Regions from separate parts of the Homo sapiens genome. Here region 1 is linked to region 2. The links come from fine-mapping of genetic effects on gene expression. Tissue or cell type: whole blood. Region 2 holds a variant in brackets; the other region holds the start of a gene. All regions are shown on one strand. Distances are between the middles of the regions.

Evidence for each region.
Region 1: it holds the start of GPD2, and the variant in region 2 is fine-mapped to the expression of GPD2 in whole blood (TOPMed, PIP above 0.99).

What each region holds. Positions count from the first base shown.
Region 1 is chr2:156,428,394-156,443,688 of GRCh38, reverse strand. GPD2 (glycerol-3-phosphate dehydrogenase 2) reads right to left here and starts at 7,310. Exons shown (of 17, transcript NM_000408.5): 1 at 7,176-7,310. RefSeq lists silencers at 7,189-7,598, 8,039-8,208 and an enhancer at 7,749-7,798.
Region 2 is chr2:156,457,480-156,472,774 of GRCh38, reverse strand. The region is part of intron 1 of GPD2 (glycerol-3-phosphate dehydrogenase 2); the gene reads right to left. Among named protein-coding and RNA genes, the nearest start is that of GPD2, 29 kb to the right of the region's middle. The variant G/C (reference allele first, on the strand shown) is at 7,947.

The DNA.
Region 1 (15,295 bases), 29 kb after region 2:
CTTTTATAATGTCACTTCGCCCCTTCCCTCTCCTAAATATCCTTAAGATATTAAACCTCTCAGCACCTTGGGAGGGAAAAAAATTTTGAAATAAAAATAAAAAGATTAAAACTGCCAAATGTGTAGGGAGGGAGATGCCTAAAAAAAGATGAAGCTTAAAGTATCCAGTTGAATAGATTACCTGAAATACACCTGCCTGTGTGGTATCTGGTGTCCAATCACACCCAGCACACTCTTATCACTTATTGCTGAATTGGGGATGACTGAATTATGGGGCAACCATTAATGAACAACTGCTTACTAGGTGTCACCCACATGAAAGGCACTTGGATTAGGCATGTGAGGTCTACAAAATTGTGTAAGATCCAGCATGATCTTCCATAGGAAAGAAAATTATGCATGCTTGCAAATAATTACAGGAGACAAGCATCTATAAGGGAATTATGAGTAGCATAAAAAGAGTAGCTAAAGGGTTTAGAAAATATACAAGACATTTCTGACTGGGGCTGTGAGGGAAAATGTCATAAAACTAGTAGCCAGGGGTCAGGGCACTCAAGGTTTGTTAGGATTTCAAAAAGTGAAATAGAAGGAAGAACATCAGAATAGGGACAACAGTAGGGAATTCCTACTTTTATATTTAGGGAATTCCAATCAGTCCAATATGACTGGATCATAGAGAAGATAAGGACAGCACCTTAATATTAGGGTGAGAATGAAGGAGTCTCTGAATTAATTCCAAGACAAATATTTAGAACGTGATCAAATAGGGCAGAGTAATCCATGGAAGCATGGAGCAGAGAGAGTGACATGATCAAAGCAGTTTGGGCATTACCACAATGAAACAAAACATCCTTTCTTTTTATTATTTTTTATTACTTTTTTATTTTTTTGAGACAGGGTCTTGCTCTGTTGCCCAAGCTGGAGTGCAGTAATGCAATCATGGCTCACTGCAGCCTCGGCCTCCTAGGCTCAAAGGATCCTCCCACCTCAGCCTCCTAAGTAGGAGACACGCACCACCAGACGCAGCTTATTTTTTATTTTTTGTAGAGACAGGGTCTCACATGTTGCCCAGGCTGGTCTCAAACTCCTGGGCTCAAGTGATCCTCCTACCTTGGCCTCCCAAAGTGCTGGGATTACAGGCATGAGCCAACACTTAGCCAATATCCTTTCTTTTATTCAGTTAAAATGAAAAGAAAACAACTTTTGAGAACCTAGTACTCTGAACTGCATTATTTTCATCACTTTTGAAGTACACTTAGAAGCTTATTTTATGTTTTCTTGAAATCTTGACCAAAGTTTTTCCTAATAAGTTTACCCTGAACATAAACTTTTGTTCCACATAAGTATATAGCTATCTAAAGTTTCTACTTGGCCTTGGTGGTCATCAGCAGATACAAGTAGCAAAGCATTCTAAGCATGTCACCCCATTGTCACCAAGTAATACTCAGAGGTTATCTCATTTGACAGTAGCAGCTTCTAGAAATCTCGATTTCAGAAAACAGTCTCTCTGTCATAGCTTGTCAGGTTTGTTTTTCCCACTATATTAAACCCTTTTATAGAAGGATATATGTGCACAATCAAATATGAGATTCCACAGAGGACATACTAGTATTCAAAAAACATAAGGCTTGAAAAATCTAAATCAAACAATCATTGTTCTAAAGTACCCAGACTTTGACAGTATCTCACTGTCAAAAATACAGTACATAAGTAATTCTTTCATTTTGCCTGAATAATTAAAAGATGTACCCAAATAATGTCTTTAAGTTTTGTCAATACATATGTAAAGAAAACTTATTCCTCTAGTCACAATACTTCTGACACCAAATGTATGGGTTTTCCACACCAAGAAACTCTCTGTCTAGGGGCACCAACTAGAATGTTTTACCATTTAACTCAATCTGACACTAACTGCCCAGAGTTTGTGCAGACGCCACAGGGTAAGGGCTCAGTCCCATGAGACTGCCCTCCACTTCAGATGCCAGTCAAAAATAGTGGGCCCCGGGATATCCACACTTCTGTTAGACTTAGCTACAAATCAGGGGTTCCTACAACCCCATCCTCAAATTTGATAATTTGCTATAGTGGCTAACAGAAATTTACTTACTTTTTTATCTTTTTTCTTTTTTTGAGACAAGGTCTTGCTCTGTCACTCAGGCTGGAGCGTAGTGGCACTAACGCAGCTCACTGCAGCCTTGACCTCCTGGCCCCAAGAGATCCTCTCACCTCAGCCTCCAGGGTAGTGAGGACTACAAGCATGGACCACCACACCTGGCTAGTTTTTTCTTTTTTAATTTTTTGTAGAGACAGGGTCTCTCCACGTGGCCCAGGCTGATCTCAAACACCTGAGCTCAAGTTATCCTCCTGTCTTGGCCTCCCAAAGTACTGGGCTTACAGGTGTGAGCCACCACAACAGGCCTACTTACATATAACAGTTTATTACAAAAGGTATTAAAAAAGACACAAATCAACAGCCAGATGAAGAAGTACACAGGGCAAGAAATGGGAGAAGGGGTGTCCTCTCTGGGCATGCCTTCCTTCCAGCACCTCCATGTATTCACCAACTCAGAAGCTTTCCAAAATTTAAGGTTTTTATGAAGGCTCCATGATGTGGGCATGATTGATTAAATTATTGTCCACTGGTGACTGACTGGATTTCCAGCCCCTCTCCTCTCCCCGGAGGTCTGGAGTGAAGCTGAAATTCCAACCCTCTAATTACATAGTTGGTTCCTCTGGCACCAGCTCCCATCTCCATCCTGAAGCTATCTAGGGTTCTACCAAGAGTCACCTGTCATCTCAGCAGTGTAGAAAAAGACACTCATCATTCCAGAGATTCGAAGGGTCTTAAAAGTTCTTTAGTCAGAACTGGGGACAAGTATCTTTCTTACTATATCACAATATGTCACAATACATTTGTACTTGAGAAGGAGAGACATCTATTAACCAATTTTTCCCACTAATTTTGTGAACTAATTGAACCGAAGCTTGACCTAAATAAATCAGAAATCATGTTTTTGCTGCATAAATCAGAAATTTGGTTTTGAAAGAACATAAAATTCTCTACTGAAAAATAGGAAATAAGAGCACCGATATGATATAGAAAGAAATACACAACTCAAAGAACTAGTAAGAGTCTCTAACGAGAGATCAAATCCCAGAACACAAGCCAAAGGGAAAACAAAAACAAACAAACAAACAAACATGGTCACATTCACATCAGGACACAAATTAGAATTCTGGATGCATTCTGACCACAATCATTATCTAAACATCCTCAGGTATTCAAACCATCAACATCTCTTCCTTTCTTTTTCTTAAATGTTCCTGAGATCACTCCCTGGTCATATAGTACAGGAAGAAGTCTATTCTAAAATTGTTAGAGATTTCCTGGCTTGCAGTCACATTGGCCCTTGTCTTTCTCACTTGGAGTTGAGTTTGATCATATCTTCCTCATACATTTCTTTCACGCATCATGTCAACAATTCTAAAACAAAGAAAAGTAAAACACACTTTATTAGTTTCTTCTTCCCCTAACATACCACTTCCAAGTTTTCTTCTTATCTCAAAAGTCTTAAGACATGATGGAATTATTTAAGTATTTTGATGAGCAACTAAAACTTACTTAATAATATCTTCTTAGTTTAGTTCCATTCAGTTCTTCTCTATCTCCCAAGTAACAATTTTGAATTTAGCGGGTTGAGGGGTCTCAACCCTGATGACTAATAATTTTCTCCTTATACTCCAGGTAAAAAATATATAAAATATACCCCATTGTCAAAACTGAATAGAATAACTGGCAGGCCATCTGACACTTTATTTATTTATTTATTTATTTATTTTTTGAGACAGATTCTCCTTCTGTCGCCCAGGCTGGAGTGCAATGGCACAATCTTGACTCACTGCAACCTCTGCCTCCTGGGTTCAAGCAATTCTCCTGCCTCAGCCTTCCTAGTAGCTGGGATTACAGGTGCCCACGATCATGCCCGGCTAATTTTTGTATTTTTAGTAGAGACAGGGTTTTGCCATGTTGGCCAGGCTGGTCTCCAATTCCTGACCTCAGGTGATCCGCCTGCCTAGGCCTCCCAGCCCAAAGTGCTGGGATTACAGGTGTGAGTCACTGTGCCTGCCTGGCTTGTTTTTTTTTTTTTGTTTTTTTTTTTTTTTTTTTTTTTTTTCTGAGACAGTCTCAAGCAATTCTCACGTTTTGGCCTCCTAAGTAGCTGGGACTACAGGCACGTGCCACCATGCCTGGTTAATTTTTGTATTTTTTTGTAAAGATGGGGTTTCCATGTTGTCCAGGCTGGTCTCAAACTCCTGGGCTCAAGCGATCTGCCTGCCTTGGCCTCCCAAAGCAAAGTGCTGGGATTACAGGTGTGATCCACTGCACCTGGCCTATCTGACACATTTTTAAGCAAGTGTGTTAAAGGTGGACAAGAATGAAGAGTTACCATTTTCACGCCAATCCTGAGCTTTAAACTTCACAGACATAGTGACAAGTATTGATTTCTTGCATATGCAGAATTTTACTGAAGATTTCCCATATAATTTTCAACAGAAAGATCATTTTTGAAAGTACAAGATTATGTTGGCTTTTTCATACAATGAAGTACACAATAGCAAACATTCCTAAAACAAAGGTGATCTTTCCAATAGTCTTCAGGACATGTTAAGTCTCTCTGTTACTGAAGTGGCATTCCCTTCACCAGGAAGCTGTCTCCAACTACTTGAGCCAATATTAACCTTTTCCTTCATAATCACATCAGTTCTGGCCAACATCCTACCACTGGAAAAATGATTGTACGAGGTCTTATGTTGGTCTCCAATTGTTTTCCATCTATGTTTTACCTTGTTAAACAACTGTAAGCTTCTCAAAAGAGGTTAACTATTTTTTTATTTAGCACTTATTACACAATATAATGCTGCACAAGAATACAGAAAATTTCATTTAAGAAGACTAGTGTTCATATATTTGATTTCTAGTCCTCTTTCTGAAGTGTTGTTTCTGCACTTAGGATAGCCCCATGAGTCCAGGTGTTGACAAACAGAAAGAATCAAGTTTTGGAAAACCTAAACAGAAACATCATCACATTCAAAAACTAAAACTGAGAAATTAGATACTGATCTGAAAATTGCTTCCCTTCTCTAATAACCATAGCTACCACTAACTCGCCTCTCCTCTCCCCATCCCAACACACTCAACTAACCGAAAAAAATGTACGGATAATTCATGCACAACATGCAAGAATTCTTTGCCCAAATTTTCAAGCTAACTACATTCTTTGCCCATATTTTCCTACTTGAGTATAAGAAGGAAAAATATAGGATGGAAGCTAGTCTTTTGAAGTCTACTACTTGCCAGGTACATTGCTAGCAATTTTACACACGTCATAGCATTTATTATCCATATTTTGCCAATGAGACAATTGAGGCTGAGTTTTAAAAGATGACCTAAGGCCAAAGTCTTTGGCTCCCCGCTCCACAACTACCCTCAGCTGGAGTTTGTTCCACAGTTCAGTCGCTCATTGAGAAAACATTTATTGAGGGTGTATTACAAGCTAGTCACCCCTCTAGGCATTGGAGGTCACTCATTGAGAAAACATTTATTGAGGGTGTATTACAAGCTAGTCACCACTCCAGGCATTAGAGTTTTGAAAGTATGCAAGACAGAACAAGCCCTGCTACTCTCATAGAACTTACACGCTAGAGATGAAAGAAAACAACCAAACAGGATAAGTTCAGAGTTATAATAGTTTGCCAACATGAGTTATGCACAATAATCATCAAATCTTTTAAAATATCTACAATGAGATTAAATAGTTACAAAAAAAACTAAAGGGGGTGGTAACACTCACTAACAATTGGTAACACTGTGGCCCTTTTGTCAATTCCTGAACCAAGCCATTGCATCTTTGAATGAATCACAAGGGAGAAAGAAGGAAGCAGAGCTCTAATGCTGTTTAGAATTTCTTTATAAAATAAAGTGACTCTATAAGCTATGAGAATGGACAGTTGCAATGAATCCATTGTTGGTTCTCAAACCCAAAACCCCATATTTACCCATTTATTCATTAAAATATTGCTGTATTATTTCACGAGTTGATTTGTAAAAGTCAAGGGAGTGTTGTAATTTGACATAACGCCCCTGTGAGAAACAGAGGGGGGTTTCAACATCCACATCACAAGGTTCCCCAGACTGCACACGGTCTCCATTGGGCAATGGCATCCAGATGTCATGTGGTAGCCAGCAAGAACTGTAGGACTGGGACTAGAGTGGTCAGTAGCTACGAAGAAGTGCCTGGGCCCAGTGTGACAGCTGCCAGCACCGTCCACACGCCAAAAAGAAACTTCACATCTCTTTAAACTTGGAACACATGCAAAATACTAACAGTTTTGTTTTAGCAATAAAGACTCCCTGTCACTTACTAACTTCCTTCCCTCACCTATTTATACAAGTATAAGTTGACTAGCTGCTATTTCTATAGCTGCCTCCTATGATATTTATAATGTGTTGTGTGTGATTTGGGTTGCCCATGTCACTAACACTTTGCAAGAATTTGTGTTTGTAAATTACTCTGGAACTCTTCTGGGAGTGAATATTCCACTGCACAAGGTGGAAGCCAGACTAGAGACCATCTGCTAAGAGCAGCACTTCATTCACCCAGCTACACCTTCCTGCCAAAGCACTCTTTGCAAATCTATTTTTGCTGGTAGAAGTTACTACATAGGGAGTGGAGGCTGTTTTAAGTTATCAGTGTGCACCTTCCATTTCCTCCTAGGACGGTCACACGCCAGCAGCTGAGTTTCTCAAAGAAGCCTCAGCCCTCCTCCAGACTCGTTCTCACTCTTGCTTCGGAAGGGAGCAACAATCCTTATCAGACTAGCCGCATCTACAAGCTAAAAGTTTGCATGAACTTTCAATGGGGTACCAACCCTCGCCCCAAAAGTCCTGCCACTTTACTATTTTACAAATGCCGCCTCCAAAACATAAACAACGAAACCCTAGAGAAGAGCGAATCCATCTTCTGCTGGTGGGAAGAAATTCTAAATCTTTCCCGTTTCCCGCCACCACCTACCGCCAAGACTGGAGTCCCAGAACACTCGCCCGGGTCAGAAAGGGACCACTCCCCCCCTAGAATACTAGAGGCGGGGGAAGGGGTCTCCCAGGAAGCACACACCTGAGATAGATCCTCACGCGCGAGGGGCCAGCGGGCAGGAGCACCCAGTTCCTCCAGCCAGGGTGGAGTCGGCCTCCCCCCAGAATCAGAGCCTCGGCCCGGGTGCTCCCAGCGAGGCGCGCGGGGCTGTCACTCGAGGCGGGCTGGGCGGGTGTAACTCGAGCGCCGGGCGGGCCGCGCCCCCGCCTTCCCTCTTCCCGACTTCCTCCTCCCGCTCCCGCGCCTGCTCCCTCCCGGAGGCCTGACCAGGGCGGCGAGGCCGCCACCTCCTGCCCGGATACCTCGGGCCCAGGCTCCTCCGGCCCAGCGGGGAAACGCGGAAGTGGGGGCGGGAACCGGGGCCGGGGTTGGCGGGGGTGTGGGAGGGAAAAGCCAACAGCGGGCGGCGAGCGAGGTGGTCTCCGTGGCCCAATGAACGTGACTAGACGGGGACGCGGGTCCTGCCGCCGGGTGGGGTCGCGCAGCGCCACACGCAAGGGCCCTCGCCCCTGGCTGCAGTTCCTGCTTTGTGCCTCGGCGATGCCGGACTCCAGACCTCCGCCCCGCCTTGCCAGCGGGCTGGCGGACTGGAAAGCCTGAGCTAGGCCAGGCTGGGGAAGACGGTGGCGGTGTCCGATTTCCTGTGCCCTCGCCCATGCGGGCCGCCCTGGCCATCTGCCTGCGGGAGAGGAGACACTCGTCCGCCGGCACGCTGGCGGGGCTGGCTTACCTGACGACTTCTCGTTGTCCGCCCTGGGATCTGGCTTCTCCTACTCTGTACCTCCCGGCCGGCAGGCTTCCCTAGGCCTACAGACGTGTCCAGGAGGCGGGCGACCCTGCGACCCCGCCGTCAGAGCCCAGAACCCTCGCCCGGCTCCCCCGGCGGGCTCTGGAGGCGCGCCAGGCCTCCTGGCTCCCCGCCTGAATGTCAGCGCAGGGACCCGCAGGGAAGACCAAGCCCAAGCTCCAGGGGGTGGAATGCTGAGCACAGGTTCCCCAGACCCAGCCTCATACAGGTGGGGGGAGGCGGAGAGCCCCGGCAGCTGAACAGCAGGCTTCCCACTTGCAACCCCCCGCCACCCAAAAAAAAAAAACGACCCTGCCCACTGAGCATGCCCAGCTTACTTGTTGGAACTCCTAGGGCTAGACAAGCCCAAGGGGACCTAAGGAAGGCAAAGTTGGGGCTCAAATGGACCCCACTTCTTTAACAGCTTTGCTCCGAAGACCTCTGGGTGCTGTACTAATAACCTTTCTATCGTGGTATTGGAAAATATCCAGGAGATGGACGGAAATGCCTTTCCAAAAGAAGGAAGAAAATTAGTGTGAACCAAAAAGCAGTGGTATTTTTTTAAATAAAGTATTAAGTCACTCATTTAATGTCCTTAAATACCGCAGAATTCCTGTAGTTGACCCAGAGGAATGCATATATTTATTAAATCCCAAACTCAGTAACTTCAGGGAACCATCCATAGTCCACAGAGGAGCAATGATTCTCACCCTTGGACACATTAAAATTGGGGGGAGGGGGCAGGGAGGGGTGGAATGCCAGATTTCCATCCCCAAGTCCAATGAGTCAGTCTGGACGTGGGATCTGCAAGTCCTTGTATTTTAAAACTGGCTCTAAAAGTGTAGTCACTGGAGCCCGCAGCATCAGCATCACCTGAGAACTTGACAGAAACTGTACTCCAGTGACCTGATTCATAGACTCTGGGGCTGGGGCTGAGCTACCCAGATTTAACAAGCCCTTTGGGTAGTTCTGATGCACATTAAAGTTTGAGAACCACGGTTTAAAAGCTCCCCCAGTTGAATCATGAGCAACCAGAAAAAGGAAATTGTAGTTGAGAAAAGAAAAATAGTTCAGAGCATTTGAGCAATGTGAGGTATGCAAAATTTATCAGGCCCAGAGAGACCTTGAATATGGGACATAAGTTGCACCCCCCACACTCATGCTCAGAGGCGATTGTTTAAAGGCATTTTGTTCATGACTGACTACCCAACCATATCTTCATGTTCCTGGAATTTGTGATACGAAGAACAATCTATAGACAATTAATAGTTTGTTTTTTTATGTAAATTATTGGTAAACAATTTAGAAACTGCCTCTTCTTTTCCTTTAAAAACTTCCTTGTGGCCGGGCAGGCGCAGTGGGTCACGCCTGTAATCTCAGCACTTTGGGAGGCTGAGGTGGGCAGATCACGAGGTCAAGAGTTCAAGACCAGCCTAACCAACATGGTGAAACCCTATCTCTACTAAAAATACAAAAATTAGCCGGGCATGGTGGCAAACACCTGTAATCCCAGCTACTCAGGAAGCTGAGGCAGGAGAATCACTTGAACCTGGGAGGCAGAGGTTACAGTGAGCTGAGATGGCACCACTGAACTCCACCCTGGGCAACAGAGTGAGACTCCATCTCAAAAAATAAATAAATAAAAACTTGTGACTGGGCAACATCATGAGACTGGTTATATTAAGTATGCCTCAGTTCTTTTTTCTTTAGTTTGACAAATCAAACCAATATTTTTATCATTTTTTTCAAACCCTCATCATTTATCTAGAAATGCAACATGTTACCCAGAAAAGGAATAATCTGGTTGAGTTGGGTGCCAGTCCTGGATTTCCTTCTCACTGATTATCCCAGATCAGTTCAGTGCTTGGGAAATGGGACCATCAGTTACTCACTTTTGTACTCTAGTGCCTAGCATAGTGCCTGAATATAACTGATGTTTAAATGTTTCTTGATTTGAAATGAATGCTTAGGTGAGCGATCTGGTCCAATCCATACTATGTCAGCTGATTATTTTCCCCACTAGTCCTAGTCACACTGCTAGCTAGTGTAACCGCCCAAGGGGTTCACCTTGCCCGCTGCCTAGACAGAGTCGATTGATCAAGACAAGGGAATTGCAAGAGTAATTCACGCAAAGCCAGCTGTGCGGGAGACCAGAGTTTTATTATTACTCAAATCAGACTCCGGAGCATTCGTGGAGCGGATTTTTTAAGGACAACTTGGTGGGTTGGGGGAAGCCAGTGAGCCAGGAGTGCTGATTGCTCAGGGATGAAATCATAGGGAGTTGGAGCTGTCTTCTTGCACTAAGTCAGTTCCTGGGTGGAGGGCCACAAGGTCAGAGGAGTCAGTTTATTGATCTAGGTGGTACCAGCTGATCCGTCAAGTGCAGGGTCTGCAAAATATCTCAAGCACTGATCTTAGAAGCAGTTTAGGGAGCGTCAGAATGACTCCTTAACCATAGTTTCTAATCTTTTGTGGCTGTTAGTCCTACAAAGGCAATCTAGTCCCCAGGCAAGAGGGAGGTCTGCTTTGGGAATGGGCTGTTACCACCTTTGTTAAAACTATAAACTGTAAACTAAGTTTTTCCCAAAGTTAGTTCAGCCTACGCCCAGGAATGAACAAGGACAGCTTGTAGGTTAGAAACAAGTTGCAGTCGGTTAAGTTAGATCTCTTTCACTGTCTAGGTCATAATTTTGCAAAGGTGGTTTCACTAACCACCTTTTCCTGAGAAAAGTCAGGAGCACTGGACGTGATTCCTCTTGCCAAATTTGGGGCCCAGAACAACCAAAGGACAGCAGAAAGATGTTGGCATCTGGTGGGATTCAGGAAGGACACAGAAGGAAAAAGGTGTGCATGAGAGTGGGGTCAATTGGCACAGACAAGGAAAGAAGCTTCACCTGATCAGCATACAATTTACTCTGAATCTTCTTTTTCAAGACCGTGCACCTCTGCTCTATAGTTCCCACTCTCCCACTCTTCACACACACATCTAATCTCAACTATTGACTTGAATAAAATAAATAGGAAACTGTTGTATAGTAGATAATTTTCTCCAATAAAACATTGCTGACTTGCAATTAGAGCATAAGTTATTTAGAGCATATTTTCAAAGTTGTTAATTCTTAAAAATGCACAGCCCTAAAAAAGAACAAAATCACTTTGTAGCAACATGGATGCAGCTGCAGCATATGGATGCAGCTGCAGGCCGTTATCCTAAGCAAATTAATGTAGGAACGGAAAACCAAGTATCACATGTTCTCACTTGTAAGTGTGAGCTAAATCATGGTTTCACTCAGACATAAAGATGGGAATAGGCACTGGGGAATCCAAAAGGAGGGAGGGGGACAGGGGCTGAAAAACTTCCAATTTGGTACTATGTTCAGTATGTGGGTGATGGAATCAATAGAAGTCCAAACCTCAGCACCACACAATCTACCCTTGAAACAAACCTACACATGTAGCCCCTGAATCTAAAATAAAAATGGAAATTAAAAAATTTTTAATGAATATTAATTTCAAAATGTAGAGGTTTATGATCATTCTTTTAAGATTTTACAGATACTGGCCGGGCACGTTGGCTCATGCCTGTAATCCCAGCACTTTGGGAGGCCAAGGCAGGAGGATCACCTGAGGTCAGGAGTTCAAGAGCAGCCTGACCAACATGGTGGAACCTTGTCTCTAGTAAAAAATACAAAAATTAGCCAGGTCTGGTGGCACACGCCTGTAGTCCCAGCTACTCGGGAGGCTGAGGTAGGAGAATTGCTTGAACCCGGGAGGCAGAGGTTGCAGTGAGCTGAGATTGCGCCATTGCACTCCAGCCTGGGCAACAGGGCGAGACTCTATCTCAAAAAAAAAAAAAAAAAAAGATTTCACAGACACGCAGACACGTATAAAATAAAACACTATGCCCTATTTATTCCATGAATCTTTTCTAAAGAGAATAAAATATAATAACAAATTTTTCTTTCTAGCCTAATACATAACACTTTAAAGCCTTTTTTGACAATTCTTTTTATGAGTATCTAAGTAGCTTTCTGCCTCCCTATCTCTAGCCCTGTGTCTTGCTCCTAATATAACAAGAATTCCACTGAAAGGGTTTGGTTGCTGATTAGAGTATGTAACAGGAACACAATTTCCTATATGCCTAAGCACTTTCTTTTCATTATTAAGATACTTTCATGGAGAAGTGGGAGATAATCATTAATTTAGGAATTGCTCTCAGTAATTACTATGCCAGCTCCACAGACAATATTGAAAAAAAAAAGCAAAAAACAAAAACCTTCCCTTCTCAACAAACACTTGCTACTGCTTCTTTTTTGCTTATAGTATTAAAACCAAATCAAACAAATAAAGAGGTTTAAAACTAAAAGTGTAGGAAGACTAAGTGGGGTTATGAGAAAGGAAACAATGACCATAACCAAATTTTAAAACATGAAGTAATTATTTCAGCAGAAGGCAATCTAGTGAAGACCAAGACCTCAGGGAAGTGAGAGTCTTAAGTGTTTCTCTTCTTCCCCATAAGAATGACTCAGCATTTGGAATGAAACTATGTTTACTGTCTTTCAGATTTCTGGTGTCAAATAACTTTGGTGCCACCTAACTCCTTTCTCCTGTGCCTAAGAAAACTCAAGGACAGTCATGGGTTTTCATCCTCATATGGCCACAAAAATCTGAAAAGCTTTCCCTTTTTCACCCATACCTGTCTTACAGAAGCCTAAGTTGGTCCACCATTCATTTATCTTGTTTTTGTTGTGTTGTCAGACGAATTTAGGTTGTCACCTATATCCTGGTGTAACAAAATGAGCAAGAAGTTTTTTCCTTCCCAAACTTGGAGAGTAGGCTACCTGCTACTAAGACATCTTAAACGCAGCTTCTGGGATTGACCTTTTCCCACCATGTGGGTACTTTCCAGTGATGAGTCTACCATGTACTTTTAATGATCACCACATGTCTAGAGCCAACTATTTTAGTCCTTGCCCATTTCTAGAGAAAAACAAATTTTTCCCATAGCCAGGTAAGTGTTCATTGGTTACCAAAGCTCAAAGTAAAATGTATGGAATACTAGAACTGAACTGGGCTGTAAATGTTAACCCCACACTTTCATTTTCTAAGAAACAAAACCAAAGCTCAGCAGTATTACAACATTAGCTAAACATGGAGCCAAGACTAAAATGAGAAACTGCTTGGTATAGAGAACACTGTGTGAGCTCAAGTCATCTCTTGTAAGTTCTTCAACCATGGTCTGGTTCTCTAGCTTTCCAGAACCTCGGTATCCTTATCAGTGAAGGATGTTAATATCAAACATTCATATGGTGTTTACTTTATCTCAGGCACTAGTCTTAACAAGGTGATGTAATCCTTAATCCTCAGCATAACTATGTAAGTATTTTGTTTTTCTGTTTTTTTTTCTTTTGTTTCATTCCACCAAATGGGGAAATTAAGGTACAAACCTATTAAGTAATATGCTGAAGACACCACACCTAGCAGATGGCCAAACTGGGATTGAGTGGGATAATATTTGTAAAATGCCTGGTATATAAGTTGTCAATAGAACTATTACCAATGTCAGTTTTCCTCCCTAGATCACAAGCATATCCTGCCAAAACACTTTGTTCTGAGCTTTGTATGTTCACATATTTTTTTCATTATATTCTTTAATTTGGGTACAGTTTAGGTAGTTTACATGAATTAGAAAGTTATGTTATATATGCATCTAACATAATCGTATCCATTGTTAACAATAGTTGCAAACACTAAGAAGTTAACCAAAAATTAAAGACTACAAGTTTACTACTTACCAATAAACAAAACTAATATAGAGTATCTAAAAGATTAACAGTGCTGTCCAAGAAAATCTTAAATCCTTGAGCAGGATCAGACCAATCACTTTGGGATCTTAAGATAAGAACAGCTCATTTGGTAGATCTCCACCTACTTGATACACGAATTCTTAACAGCAGAGTTATAGACATCTAAAAATATCCAACAGAAAATCTTTCCATGTCAGTGATTCTGAAAGAGTTAGAATCAAGAATGAAGTGAAAATATATGATCCTTGAAAAGATGAAATAAAAATACTAAATATATTTTTAAATGGGTACTTTAAGTTTTATTTCTGCTTTATAAGAACTGGGAATGTATTCTTAAAATAAATGTCTAAAGCATCAATATAAAGTGGCACCAAGAAACTTACTTAGATTTAAAGGCCTGAGGGTAAAGGAAATGTGTATTCCTTCCCTAAACAGGAATCCACTTTGTCCCTGGGACAGGGTAGCACTGAAAACTAGCTTTTATAAATTTTCATAATGTAAACTCAATAATGTTGTCTCTGGAACATAGCCACCTATTTAATAACAGCAGGAAAGTGTGGGTAAGCAGAAATGTCCCAAGAAACTCTTGCAGAGAACATGAATAAGTATTAAGTTCTGTTGTGGGAGCTGAAACAAAATAGAGAATTCAGCTTTTCAGAGTAAAGCTTAGTTATCATCCTAGTGAAAGAGGTAACTGAACCAATGGTAAATAACCCAAGAAACTGGAGATTTGTTCAGTCCCACATCTGAATACATTTTATATAACCTGGAAATGGTTTAAATCTCAGCAGTAAATGCTTAAAATAAACTTGACCACTGTTTATAATGTTATAACATGATTTTAAAAAAAGAAAATGAATGAATTTGAATAGCAAAAACAGCATAACAATAGCAACAGACAGGATTTATGTCTGTACATGATTAGCTTTAAAGTGAGGATGTTGTATCTTAGCCTTCAAACATGTAGGCATTGACCTAATTTCTGCTAAGCCAAGAGGAAAGTTTTTTACACGCACAGAGCATAGGCCAGAGGGTAACAGGTGCTGTTCCTTGGCCTGAAAAGCAAATCTCCTTCATTCCTCCTCTATCAGCAAAATCATCATATAAAGCCTGAAAAATGGAAGACAGGAAAGCAGAGAATCTTTGTTCTGTTATCCTTCAGTTACAAATTAAAGTTCATTTTTGAAAGAGCTCTTTAGGGAGGCGTAAAGTAGAAGGAGAGAATGGTTAAATGTAACATCCATCAAGGAGAAATTTTACAATTTAATGGGAAGTGTATTATTTAAAAATTCTCTAGGCCACGCTGTAAATAAATAATCCTGTTCCCTTCCTGCCTAACTGCTAGCCAAGCTTCTGAGAATGAAACAACTTGACATATGAGAAATAGCTAGAAACTGGTGTCAGGGCATCTAGAAACTTTTTTATTCTAGTAAATCTAGAGTAATGTGTATTCTAAAAAATATCTTTCAATAGTCAAATGTGGTACAAGCCAATTTTTATTGTGTTCTTCACTGTCAACCTGGTCCTCTTATAGTATTGAAATACAG
Region 2 (15,295 bases):
TTTGTTGTCACTCCCAAAAGAAGGCCCTATTCTCAAAGTCACCCAAATGTTCAGTCCCTTGGCATTTGGGTTAATCTCCAAGGCAATGAAGAAGTCTCTAGCAAAGTATCTACTAGTAATCTTCTGCCAGGTAATGTAAGACCTTTGTTTTAGGGCCGGGCACGGTGGCTCACATCTGTAATCCCAGCACTTTGGGAGGCTGAGGTGGGTAGATCATTTGAGGTCAGGAGTTCAAGACCAGCCTGGCCAACATGCTGAAACCTTGTCTCTACTAAAAATACAAAAATTAGCCAGGCAGTAGTGGCATGCGCCTGTAATCCCAGCTACTCGGGAGCCTGAGGCAAGAGAATCCCTTGAGCCTCGGAGGCGGAGACTGCAGTGAGCCGAGACTGCGCCACTGCACTCCAGTCTGGGTGACAGAGTAAGACCCTGTCTCAAAAAATAAAAAATTTAAAAAAGAACTTTGTTTTAATGCTGAAAGAATGAAATTTAGAACTATATAAACCAAATGCTGTGGACAACATGTACCCATTTACCATTGTAAGGAGAAACGTTTTCACAATGATTACAAACAAAAAAAAAAGATTATTTCCTTCTAAGTAACAGCTTTACTAGAAAACTAGCAAAGAAGGGGACCAAAAATATACACAAATCTTTACTAACTTCTGCAATAAATGTTCAAGGAAACCAGAGGTGAAAAAATTTTAAAAAATAGAATTAGCTTATTTATCATAGCTTCAAATCCATGTTTTATAGCCTTTTAATTAAATCACATATATGCTTACTCAGGACCAGCTGCTGCATTGACATAGACCAGAGCTAGCTCTAATTCTTGCAAGGAGAACACCAGCTCAGTTGGCAAAACCTAAACAAATGGTGCTCAACTAAATATATCTGTGAGTTTATCAACTAACTGCCCACAAGCAATTAATCTATCTGTAGGATTAAATATCAAAGTGTGTCTTGTAACTCTGCACTCTGTCTTATAACTAGTTGTGCTATACTGAGTGTTATAGTCTGATAGAAAAAAAAAGCAAGGTGCTATATCATTTTAATGTTGCAAGAAATTGACTCTGACTAAAAGAATTAAAGAAGGCTTCAGTGAAGACAGGATTTTGGAGAAGGGTCTTGAAGGGGAAAAAATTTGGAGGGGAGTGAGTAGGGAACGTTATAGAGAAAGACAATTGGTGGAGAAAGGGGAGCATCATGGTACGTTCTAGGCATACAAATAGTTATCTCGTTTGGCTGGAGATGATGTACAGCTAGAAATGGTGTTTAAAAAGAAGTCCAGAGGGAAGAGAGAGGAAGACTGTGTACACGTGAAGTAAAATATTTCTATGATATCCTGTTGGCAACGGGGAGTAGAGGCTGTAGATTAAGGAAGTAAGATGTTTTGTCTAACGTTCTGTAAAGACTGTTCAAGTAGATTTTTAGTGTTGAAGCTTACGAAGACAGAGAGACCAATTAGAGGGCAATGAAATAGATCCCATGTGAGAGAAGAGCCTGGTTTAAGGCAACATTAAAGAGTGCAAATCTAGAGACTGATGTTTTGCACAACTGTCTAAGGACAGCACTCAATTAGACAGCATGACAAGACCTGACAACCGATTACAGGAGGCAGCAGGAAGAGACTGAACACAATAAGTGGTTTTAGTTTGGGCAGCTGGAAAATGACCCCAAGATTTCAATATTAAGATCTAGAAAGAGAAGCAGGTTTAAGGAAGAAGAGAAGCTCAGCTTGCAACTAAGAAAATTTGAGATCTTGACGGAACATCTACTCAGAAAACAGCACAGATGAATATTTGGGTCTAAAACTCCCAAGAGTAATAGGTACTTGGGAAAATTTTGCCTAGAACTGACAGATGTAATTGCTACACAACAAAATGTACTTACTGCTAGCAAACAAAAACTAAATTTGCCACTTCTCAAAGTTTGCTGACCTTTGTTTGTACCTGACTGCTGCAACTTATCTGGCTCAGATGAATTCTTAGATGTCCTTGTAGGGCTCCCATTATAGACAGTGACTTTTAACAAAGAACAACTCCTCACATCCTATTTCATGTAAGTCCCTGAGTGCATCCACCACTTCTACCTCCTCCCATTCATAGGCAAGGCAACTATGCACAAGCAAATTTATTCCAGAACCAGATCGCACTTCCTGGCCTCTGAAATCTCTTTAAAAAGTACTCACTCTCCTACTCATCTCCCTGTCTTCTCTCTTCCAGAAGCCTTACTTATCAAAATACAAATTTAGCATAAGTAAGAATCATGCAAATGGGCTGGACCAGTGGCTTATACCTGTAATCCCAGCAATTTGGGAGGCCAAGGCAGGAGGATTCTTTGATATCAGGAGTTCAAGACCAGCTTGGGCAACAAAGCAAGACTCCATCTCTATTAAAGAAAATTTAAAAATTAGCTGGGCATGGTGGCGCACACCTCTAGTTTCAGCTATTCAAGAGGCCAAAGTGGGAGGAATCATGTGTGCCCAGGAGGTCAAGGCTTCAATGAGCCATGATCATACCACTGCACTCCAGCCTGGGCGACAGAGCAAAACCCTGTCTTAAAAAAAAAAGAAAAAGAAAAAGAAAAAGATTCCATGCAAATACATTTGTCACTCCTCTGTGGAATAAGCCCTGGGTCCCTTTGTCAGAGGCGTGTGAACCAGAGGAACTCCATCTTGAATAGGAGCTGGGTAAAATAAGCCACCCCTTGTTTAGCATATAATCAAGAAATAACCATAAAAATGGGCAACCAGCAGCCCTGTGTGTATGGAGTAGTCATTCTTTTATTCCTTCACTTTCACTTTATGGACTCACCCTTAACTCTTGTGTGAGATCCAAGAACCCTCTCTAGGCATCTGGATGGGGACCCCCTTCCTGTAACACCTTCATGTTTACAAAAACTCTCCTATCTTTCTGGTTTCTTATATAGAAACCTCAATTACCTTTCTAATCCCCATGCTCTCCATTAGTTTAGAACTTCTCAGGGTTTTGATTCTTATGCCAGCATAGAAGTAAGCATATTTCTCTCCATCCCTTACAAGCATGACCAATGGAGGGGCGGAGAGTACAGCTCAAAGATCAATTACAGAAGAGTAATTTCAACGACCAGCCTTGCTGTCCTCGGGGCATGCATTCTCCAGCAAGACATAAAGGCATCCCATATTGCACTCCCATGTTTATTGCAGCACTAGTCACAGTAGCCAAGATTTTCAATCAACCTAAGTGTCCATCAACAGACAAATGGATAACAAAAATGTGGTACATATACACAATGAAGTAGTATTCAGCCATAAAAAAGAATGAGATCAGGCCGGGCACAGTGGCTCACACCTGTAATCCTAGCACTTTGGGATGCCAAGGTGGGCAGATCACTTGAGTTCCGAAGTTCGAAACCAGCCTGGCCAACATGGTGAAACTCCGTCTCTACTAAAAATACAAAAAAATTAGCCAGGCGTGGTGGTGGGTGCCTGTAATCCCAGATACTCAGGAGGCTGAGACAGGAGGAAAATCACGTGAACCTGGGAGGTGGAGGTTGCAGTGAGCTGAGATCACGCCACTGCACTCCAGCCTGGGCGACAGAGCGAGAGACTCCGTCTCAAAAAAGAAAAGAATGAGATCATTTCATTTGCAACAACACGGGTAAAACTGGAGGACATCATGTTAAGTGAAATAAATAAGGCACAGAAGGACAAATTTTGCATATTCTCACTCATTTGTGGGAGCTAAAAATAAAAACAAATGAACTCATGGAGACAGAGAGTCAGAGAGTAGAGGATGGCTACCAAAGGTTGGAGATGGTAGTGAGGTTGGGGTGGGGATGGTTAATGAGTATAAAAACATAGTTAGAATGAATAAGATCTGGAAGTTGATAGAACAGGGTGACTGCAGTCAACAATAACTTACTGTACATTTAAAAATAACTAAGAGAATGTTCGTAACACAAAGAAATAAATGCTTAAGGTAATGGATACCCATTTACCCTGATATTACTGTTACTCATTGCATGCCTGTAGCAAATTATCTCATGTACCCAAAAATATGTATACATACTATGTACCCAGAAAAATTAAAAAGAAAAAAGAAATTAAAAATAAATAAAAGCGATCCATGCTCTTCCAATCACCTACACTGAGAAATCCAGATGTACAAGGCATTTCAAACATTAAATAAAAACCCCAAGATGTAACCTAGAGGTAGCCCTTTAATCACTAAGCCCTTTACCTAAGCCTTTTGTGGTCCAAAGGTAGCAAATGCTCCTTACACTTCATCTGTGCAGCCACCTGCTCCTGTAGCTGTGCATGCAAAACCCACTCCTTCAACTATTTTGAGTCGTGTCACACTGTCACACCCATGGAAGGCACAACTCAGAGGGCCAGGCCTCACACTCGCATACAAATCCAGTGACTTATTGAAGAAAAGTGCATGAGTCTTACAAAATAAGCATATAGAACCTCATCAGAGAAGGTCCTAGCAAACGGGTCTGTAATCATGGATAGCTTGACAGCAAGTCCACAGTAAAACAGAAGAAGGAGTGAGCTCAAAAGCCTCTTCCCTCCCAGCAGCACCCTTTTAACTATAAAAGTCAAGATCACTGGGTGGCTTGAACTAGATGTGTTTTAGCAAGCAAACCTTTTATTATTCCAATTAATGTGATAACAAATGTTTTGTACAATTCCCTTGAAGGAGGTATCTCATAGTTCAGACACACCAAACATATGCTGATACAGTGCTTACTCAGACAAGTAACAATCAAAGCATACCATGTACTACTCTTTCCCCAAGTTTTACTTTACTGTGGGGATCATGATTAGTACTCTGCCTGCAAACGCATTCCCCCCAGCCAAGCAGAGAAGGACTTACACACCTGTATCTTACACATGTGATTCCTACAGAAACACACAGAGAGCCCTCAAGTGTACTTTTTGAAAGCTATCAGACCTAAATGAACAAAACAGTCAAACAGAAGAGGCACATTAGCCTGTTCTCTGGAAACAGAGAGGAGGTCTATTCTGTAAACTGAAGGTGAATTCTCCTCTTTTGTTGTTGTTGCTTTTAAAAAGGATTTAGGCCAAGACTGGACAGGAAATTGACCCAAGGGTTCTTCACAAAAGACAATCCCTATGGAAAGAAGTGAATGTATCAAGTCCTAAGAAAACAGAAGACACTTTTATCCTTCCGTCACCTTCTTTAGCCTTTTCTCTATTATATCAAAAGCAAAAACACACAAACACAACAATAACAACCTATAGTTGTAAAGAATATATACACTGAACAGGATATCAAACAACAAACAAAAAGGCTTTTCCGAAGTCACTGAGAAAAGCATTATCCTGATAACGCAAGATAAATCAAAAAACCAAGTAAAAGTCAACAGAAATGTGTGAAACATAATCCTCAGGTTCTAAATACACAAATTTTTGGACTGTGGTGGAAGAAGCTAAAGCAACACACTCACACATTGCTGGGAAGGCATCCAGACTCTAGCTTTGTCCCTGACTTCCACACCCTATCAAAAGGCCAGCCTGCTTCCAAGAAGGGCAGGTTCTTTCACTTCCAATCCATTTATTTCCCCAGGCAATTACTGCCAGAAGGGCCCACCCCAGCCCAAGAGAAAGTAAACAATTTTAGCAGAGGAAGAGTATTTCCATAAAGAAGAATGAGAAAAAAAAAAAATCATGAAACAAAGAGAAAGCGAAAGAAAATAAACACTATATTTATATCAATTCACATAGTGTAAAGCTAGAAAATTCTGAGTCTCCCTGGGTCACCTTTATGTCAATTATATCATTTTAGAAGCAAACCAACAGTGAGAACGAGGTTGGCCCAGGACCACTTCTCAGCCTCAAAGGAGGGCAGGAGCCTGGAAGCTTGACAGGAGAAGCTGGCTAAGAAACGAGTTGAGCTAGTTTCAGGGGCAGAGTTCAAAAAATGCAAGTAAAAGGTACAAAAGAAGGAGAAAATAAGGTCAATAACTATTTTAAGTGAGCCAGTTAAAAGTCTCTGTTTATAAAAAATTTGTTGCAAACATTATTACATGGGATTTCTGATGTGTGATGGGGGGTTAAGTTTAATAATGTCATAACTGTTAATCGAGCATTTATTTCACAAAGTCCTCTAAAACAAAAAATGCATTGAAAGGGAGGGAGCCTTAGAGGAACACAAGGATACACGTTTGCACTCTAGTAGTGATGCATTATTTAAGACCCGATTTTTTACAAAATATATGCCATTTCCAAGGCAATTGCCATATAACATACTTATGCTTTCTACCATTTCTAAAATACACACTGGAACTATAGTCACAAATTTGACCCTTTTTCTTTATTTCATGAGGTTCACTATAGAATTATAAGAAATCAATGAAGCTCATTATATTCATTAAATGCAAATAACCACAGCTTAATTCATAATAGAATAGTTTCTATTATGTTTGCTTTCCATACAATTGCTATAAAAGTCATAAAGAACTATAGTTAGTGCACGCAAGTGAATTTGTATTCCATTTTAAATTCATTTTAAAAGCAAAGTTAATATATACTCTGTATCACTCCAGATATATTCACGGATTTGTGTTTAAAGTCGTACAATCCTATCTTTAATATTCCATTAAAATCTATCTCTGCCTTCTTTGCTTACCATATACATAATTGAGGGTAACCCTGAGAGCCCCAAAATAAAATGTCCCTCCCAAGTGAAAACTTGAAGCATTCCTTCACAAAAATGCCAACCCCTTGTAAAAACACAAGTCAGGTTAAGGAGCTGAGTAGATAACATGCCTAGTACAGAATTAAACAAACTTGCATTTATATCAACTAACAAGAAATGGTTGACTTAGCATGAAAAGGAGATAGCACAACAGGGAGAAAAACTTTAAATCTGCCTTGAGGAGGCAGGAATGTTATCAATGAAACACATTCATTGATAACATTCAAAAGAAGTTCATTAGTCAAACAGACCATACTAGTCCTGTGCTTCTTTCAGTCTTTCCGCCCCTTTACTAACCCTTTATTGGGTTAAGATAATGTTTGACATTCCTTTGGCAGCATAAACGCTCTTTTTACATTTTACATGCTGTTACAGAATCTACTTCAGTAATCAAAACAAGAAAAAGGCCTGGAGTGGTGGGTGGCTAACATCTATAATCCCAGACTCAGAGAAACCCAGGCAGGAGGACCCCTTGAGGCCAGGAGTTCAAGACCAACCTGGGAAGCGAGACCCTGTCTCTACAGAAAAAATCTTTTTAATTAGCTGGGCATGATGGCACATGCCTGTAGTACCAGTTACTCAGGAGACTGAAGTGGGAGGATTGTTTGAACCCAGGAATTCAAGGCTGCAGTGAGCTATGAGGGCACCACTGCACTCCAGCACAGGTGATAGAATGAGATCCTGTCTCAAAAAAAAAAAAAAAAAAGAAAGAAAGAAAGAAAGAAAAGAAAAGAAAAAGTCCTTTACCTTGCTATAAAATAAGCTGCAAATCAAAGAGTTTTAAATGTCTGTCTTAAGATTAAAACATATCAAGCCTTCCCTCAAAATTTATTAAAACTAACAAAGCCTTACAGAGTAACTACAATCATGGCTGTTGAATACATACTGTAAAATGTTTTGTAAGAAAACAAAGTCCAGGCCGGGCACGGTGGCTCATGCCTGTAATCCCAGCACTCTGGGAGGCCGTGGCGGGTGGATCACTTGAGGTCAGGAGTTCGAGACCAGCCTGGCCAACATGGTGAAGCCCCATCTCTACTAAAACTACAAAAATTAGCCAGGCGTTGTGATGGGTGCCTGTAGTCCCAGCTACTCAGGAGGCTGAGGCAGGAGAATCACTTGAACCCAGGAGGTGGAGGCTTTAGTGAGCCAAGATCATGCCACTGCACACCAGCCTGGGCAACAAAGCAAGACTCCATCTCAAAAAAAAAAAGAAAAGAAAATGTACCAATTCTTTCAAAA[G/C]TTCCTGTTGCAACTGCATTATATGCCGTTAGAAATATATTTGGGGAAGTATCTGTTGAAGATGGTTTAAGAAATCCTGAGCTTATTTTTTTAAATTATGACTGAATTTTTAATAATAATTAGTTATAGCACAATAACTTCAGTTATTGTTCAGTTCATTGTAAAAGAAAGTTCTCAATTTGAATACAGCTCTATTATAAACATCACTACACATATATTTAATGTATAAGTGGTGACTGAGAGTTATAAGAGATCAAGAAGTGCGCTGTGGTGGGAAGACCAGTCACTCTGTTTCCTTAACAGAGAGAAGATCCCTAGGAAAAAAGCTGACTAGTTTTTCCATCCTGCAGTCTTTTTTCTCCTGTAACCTGTTGAAATTTACATTTAAAATTTACTCCTCTGTACATCTAATAATCCACAAGTATAAATGGAACTACAACAAAGAGCCAAAGTACAGATACAATGCATATATGAAAAAGGAAACCTGAGACGTACTGTAGTGAAAATAATCATGTATTAGAATATTTAGCTTACTGATTACACTTCCTAAAAATGTCTGACTCACAAGGAAATAAGAATCAGATGAGAGAAACAGATTGAAGTAATTCATACTGCTAACAAAATTCCCATTTAAAGTAAGTGAAAACAATGTATTTCCTAAATGCTCCATCCCCACTCCAAAAAAAGTGAAGAAAATATACTACATTTTCCTTCACCTATGCAAAAATAATGAGGAAAGCTGTATTTCTATCTCAGTCATTTTGGCTAAAATGATCTTGGTCATAAGATCTTACTCTCCTCAGTTGAATAACGCATCCTTTCCAAACTAAAGAAAAAGATATTTCTTTTCTTCTTTAAAAGGGCTAGCACAAACCCTCATGAAAAGCATTCAAGTACTATAGTCTAGTTATTCTGCATAAGATGTTTGGTATCAACACTACAGAGCTAATAGCACAGAGGTGACAGGTCTAAAATTTAAATAGCATAAATAGAGAAAATAAAGGGTTCGACTCAATATTCCTTTTGAAGCTGTCATTGATCTTTTTTTCAAAAAAGAACTCTATAGTCTTTCCCAAAAATATATAATTCTCTATGTTGTATTCCCAAAACTCTAAATTAAAAAAGAAAATCATCAGGGGGTATTCTGGAAGGAAAGACACGCTTGTAATTCTGTCTCTTCCACTAACTTGCTCTGCGATTTCAGGCAAATCACTTGAACTTGCTGATCCTCACTCCAACTATATATGAGCTAGCCTTCAAAATGTCCAAAGCTATTTTAACTTTAAAAGTTTATTACTTTATGGTTTTTCTTCATTCAATAGATGAAGAAGGGGAAACAACCCTCATGCATTAAATGTGGCATTATCTTAATGTCCTATTTATTTAGCACTGTTAGATAATTAAAACTTGCATTCATGGTTTTATTTAATAATTATTTACTGATCATCCATCATGTGTCAGGCACTGAGCAAACAAAGAACACACACAAAAAAATCCCTGCATTCCAAGAGTTTACATCTGAGTGGAGTATACAGTTAAAAAAAAAATTCTGTATTCTTTTGGATTAAAATACTATATTTCAAGAATGTAAGTCACACTTTGGCTTCTTAAATAATATTAACCATGAATTCAATTATTGACGACTTACAGCCATCCATATGTACATGCTATGATATGGTGATGGCCTCAGGAATAATAGGAGTGACAACACTATTAATGCCTTTACTTAGTGGTCTCAGGTCCCAGTCTGTTCCTGTATGAATTCTTCCTCTCTCTGCTTCCTACAATTTTCCTGCTTCTTCCAAACTATCAGGCTGATGATAATCTTCCCTGTTTATCTTTGAGCTCACTTCTTTTTTAATACTTTAAGTTCTAGGATATATGTACACAACATGCAGGTTTGTTACATAAGTATACATGTGCCATGTTGGTGTGCTGCACCCATTAACTCGTCATTGTTACCACTGTGGTTAGAAAAATGAGAGCCAAGTTAGTTTAACTGTTTCAAATACAAGTAAATAGCTCTAAGTAAGGCTAAAGGAGCTACTTACTAGAATTTTAACACTTGGTTTTCAATGTTCTGGCTCTAACTCTTCAGGGATCTTTTTACCCCCTTCTTTTATGTGTTTCAGGTTAGTGGAGCTTACTAGAAAACATCTGGATTTTGCTGTACACACTGTGAATGAAACAAACTACCCCAGCCTCTTACATAGAGTTAAGAATGTCAGGCTAGGTGCGGTGGCTCATGCCTGTAATCCCAGCACTTTGGGAAGCCAAGGCAGGCAGATCACCTGAGGGTGGAAGTTTGAGACCAGCCCGACCAATATGGAGAAACCCCGTCTCTACTAAAAATACAAAAAAAAAAAAAAAAAAAATGTATCCGGGTGTGGTGTTGCATGCCTGGAATCCCAGCTACTTGGGAGGCTGAGGCAGGAGAATTGCTTGAACCCGGGAGGCGGAGGTTGCAGTGAGCCGAGATCACGCCATTGGACTCCAGCCTGGGCAACAAGAGCAAAACTCCATCTCAAAAAAGAAAAAAGAAAAAGAAAAAAAGAATGTCAAACCAGGTACATGCACAGAGTCCAGGCCTTAGAAAAAGAAAATTCTTATTTCAATTCTACCTCATCTGAATAGATCCACATTATCTTGAAAAAACATGGCAACACTCTCTGCTTCTGTGCTAGAAACAATTAGTATATTTTTCTGTGCTCTCCTGCATTTAAAGAAATATTTGCAGATAAATGGACCAAAAAAATCCATCTGCTGCTTCTAAAAAACTCGAAAATTCCTTGAGAACTGGCTTATTGAAAACATACCAATAGCAAAGGAAAGATTAAAATTGTAATTTCTTAGAATATAACCAAAGCAAGAGTTCCATCAAATACTCAGGAAAGTATCCGTGAAGGACCTACCCAAGTGAAGAAGACAGGAGGAGGAGCATTGGTTCAGGTAACATACATTCAACTGGGATTGACTGAATACCTGGCAGATCCCCAGCACTGTTCCAGGGGCTGGGAATTCCTCTACTCTCATGGATTGGAAAAGACAAAAATAAACATGTAAACAAACATAAAAATTAAGTATTTTGAAAGTGAGAATTACTAGGAGAAAATAAAGATGAAATAATAGGTTAGAGGATAACTGGGGTAGGCTGGACATGATGGCTCATGCCTGTAATCCCAGCACTTGGGGAGGCCAAGGTGGGAGGATCGCTTGAGGTCAGGAGTTTGAGACTAGCCTGGGTAACATAGTGAGACCCTGTGCCTACAAAAAATAGAAAAAATGAGCTGGGCATGGTAACATGCACCTATAGTCCCAGCCACTCAGGAGGCTGAGGCAGGAGGATTGCTTGAGCACAGGAGTTGGAGCCTACAGTGAGCCACGATCACACCAACCTGGGTGACAAAGTGAGACCCTGTCTCAAAAACAAACAAACAAAAAAGTCAGTGGAGAATTTTAATCAGTACAATGATACGATGAAACTTATATTTCAGAAAGAAAGGAAGAAATGCCCTAGCTGCAGTATAGAGGATGCCTTTTAGGGTAATAAGAGTAAAAGTAGAGCCTGGAAGGTCAAGGCTACAGCGAGCTGAGATCCCACCACTGCACTCCACCCTGGGCAACAGAGTGAGATCCTGTCTCAAAAAAAAAAAAAAAAAAAAAAAAAGAGATAGAGAGAGATAATGTGATAATTTAGTGCTTGCCTGCAGGAACACAACTACTCCTATAGGCACAGGCACAGCCAGGGACCTGCTAGTGATAGGATGCTATCCTTGGCATATTCAAATGACACCAATGACCCCCAGGAGAGAGAGAGGGTTGCTTTTTCATTAGGATACCATTAGCCATGTTCATAATGAGTAGATGCAAGTATAGAAAAAAGGACACAATGGGAGAGGGGGAAAGAGTTAACAAATTATATGAGAAAACAGGCAAAAATACCAACTGCAATCTACAAGATTCTATAATAGGGAAACAAATACTTTAGGGATAAACTTGAATGTAAATATGTACTGAACTTACATACTTGAAAGACTGTTCATCTCACTCAGTCTAACAGGCTAACAACAATGAACAGACAGTGTCATCTAAGAGAGCCTCTTAAATGCCAACAGAAGTCTTTTTTATATTTCTATTTCCCCTTGGGCTGGGGTTGTTTCCAGGTGACTTTTCTCACCCCACAACTCATTATAATTTGCACTGATTTTGGACCCATATTGGAAAAGAACCCTAGGTCACATCTCTAAAGGCTGACGCACCCAGAACATTTCCCACCAACTACAGGCCAGGAAGTTAAGAGCTGTGTGAAGCTTATTGACCCAGCTGAGTATAAATTTCCAACAGGCAAGAGAGACTGCATATGATTAATTACAGTTATTTATATTTATGGGTTTGAATCTTGAGGATGCCTGGCCTATCCCCATTTTATTTCATAATTTTCCCCCTATTGGAGACTGAAGAGCAAAAGTCAATTGCCTGAAGTGTTGGCATCACACTGGAAACTAAAGGGCCATGCATTTCAATTCCAGCTCAAGGAACACTCTGACTGAGCAGATGCAATTCACCAGACCCCAGTGGGCTAGGATCGTACTGTTCTCAGTCAAATCACATAGCTGATGGAATTCAGCAGAGTACATTAGCAATTTATACTCAACAGCCTCTCTTCAACCATAAATTTTGAAATAATTTTGAGATAATGTCTGAGATAAAATTGGGATAATATTAAGTAAAACTTAAACTTAATCCAAAAAATTCAGGCCATAGTTTGAGCCTCTGTTCCTACCATGAAGCAGTCAGGAGGCAAGTGACTAAGTGGCATTTCTAATAGGATTCCTGTCAAAACGCCAGGTTCAGTATCAGTCCAATGACCTTCAGGCCTGACCTCACCTAGTGCACTTGAGCTTACTCCTTCAGTCATTCGTCTGGCAGCTGCCAGTTTTTCAGATTATACTATGTGGCAGCCAAGTGCTCTGCAGAGATTACAGAATGGGCAGTCAGCAACCTGAGATGTCAGTCTACCCTACGATAGTCTCAGCCTGAACAAAGCCATCAGACTTCCCTGGACTTCAATGTCCTTACGTAAAAGATTGAGATCTTCTATATGTTCCCTTTTTCTTTCTTTTTTTTTTTTTTTTTTTTTTTGAGACGGAGTCTTGCTCTGTCGCCAGGCTAGAATGCAGTGGCATGATCTCAGTTAACTGCAACCTCTGACTCCCTGGTTCAAGCGATTCTCCTGCATCAGGCTCCCAAATAGCTGGGATTACAGGCATGCGCCACCATGCCCAGCTAATTTTTGTATTTTCAGTAGTTTTTAGTAGGTTTCACCATGTTGGCCAGGATGGTCTCAATCTCCTGACCTCGTGATCCACCCACCTCAGCCTCCCAAAGTGCTGGGATTACAGGTGTGAGCCACCGCGCCCAGCCTATATTCCCTTTTTCATGGTACTGCTGGACCCATAACCCTTGCCTTTGGCACTCCAAGGCCTTCTGCCATTTTTACCACCTAAACCGGACAGTAGGCGTAAGTCACTCACCATGCCAAATGACTGCCATCAACATCCCCTTAACCCACTCTGACTTGAAAAAGCAACACTTTCATACTGAAAAGAATCATAATAAAGAAAAGTCTAAAAAAATAAATGGCACCCTTAAATAAGTTAGACATTCTAGAATTTCTTCACCTTGTAGGAATTAATCCTTTCTGAGTTAAGTACACTCTGGATAGAGATGGGGTAACGGACAAGTAGAAAATTAATTATGAAGAGAACAAAAGTAAATAAAACAGTATCTTTGTGTGTGTGTATATATATATATATATATATTTCTATTTTAAAGTATATGTACATACACACACATACACACTCACAAGTGAAGGTTAGACGAATATACCCCAAAATGTTAAAAATCTCATCTTTGAATGGTAGTATTATGAATCATTTTTATTTTCTTCCTTGTGTGCATTATTTTCTAGATGTCTAAAATAAGCATGAATTATTCTTGTAATTAGAAAAAAATGTGGAATATACGTGTGCATGCATATAAGAGAAAGAGACCTGAAAAAAAAGAATTCCAAAGAGCACCATGCAGATGGATAGCTGACATTTGACCAAATCCCATATCATCTGACCATTACTTGAGTGATTTTCCTGTTATACAACTTTTTCTCATCTTTAATGAACTACAGTAAAAGACCCATATAGAAAAAGAAAAAGAATACTTTGCCTTTACAATTTATTAGGAATCTTTGAGTAAGAACTGGAAAATGTCACAGAATTATCTGCCTCATTCTAGAAAAATCTCCACCCTAACTAAAATGAATTTGCCTTGAGCATGGGACACAATAACCATTTAAGCTTGAGTTAAGCTGCACCTAAACTCGCCCTACATTTTTAGTTATTGCACATTACAGCCCCTCGGGGATTTGCAGTTTTAATGCAACACTGGAAATCCCAACAACAAATCAAACCAGAAACTGCAAAGCTGATCAACCTTCCTGGAATTGGGTGTTTCCCAAATTTCAACTCCATAACTACAGAATCTCTTTAGTTAACACACCCAGGGGGCCCCTCCACTGTGCCAGGCCCTAAAGGAAGTCCACAGATGCACAGAGAAGAGACAGACCATCCTAAAATGGGGGCCAACATTCCCTCTCTCTCCCCACCCTGTGATAATTTAGTGCTTGCCTGCAGGAACACAGCTACTCCTATAGGCACAGCCAGGGACCTGCTAGTCCTAGGCTGCTGTCCTCGGCATATTCAAATGACACCAATGACACCCAGGAGAAAATTCAGTGCAGGAGGCAGCCAGTGTAGGAGACAGAAGACACAGACAGCCCTGGGTGAATTCCAACTTAGCCACTTACTAGCTGTGTGACTATGAGCTTTAGTTTCCTCATTTATAAAATCTCTTTTGTCACAAGTTATACTGAGAATTCGAGGTAATATAAGTAAAGCATAAAAATACATCTGCTATCCAACAACTCCCACTGCTAATACATAACATTACTGAGCATCTACAATAAGCTCTGGCCTTTTCACACATTGTCCACATTTGCACGTGGAATTGGGATATAGAAGACTATTGTTACGAGAGAGCAAAAGCAACCAACCAATTTCCATCGGGCCACAACCCTGCTTTGGCCTAACCAGCACTTTGTTCTGAACAACCAAGTACACTTAACACTCACAGGTTGGGGAAATAAATCCCATTGTTTCCCTGAAAAGACACAGGCAGGCGGCCTCTTCTGGCATATCTCTAGCATCTTTCCCCCAAATAAACATTCACTCAAATAGAATGGACACTCTTATTTCAGAGTGTTCTATCAAAAATAAACCCATATCAAGCCCAAC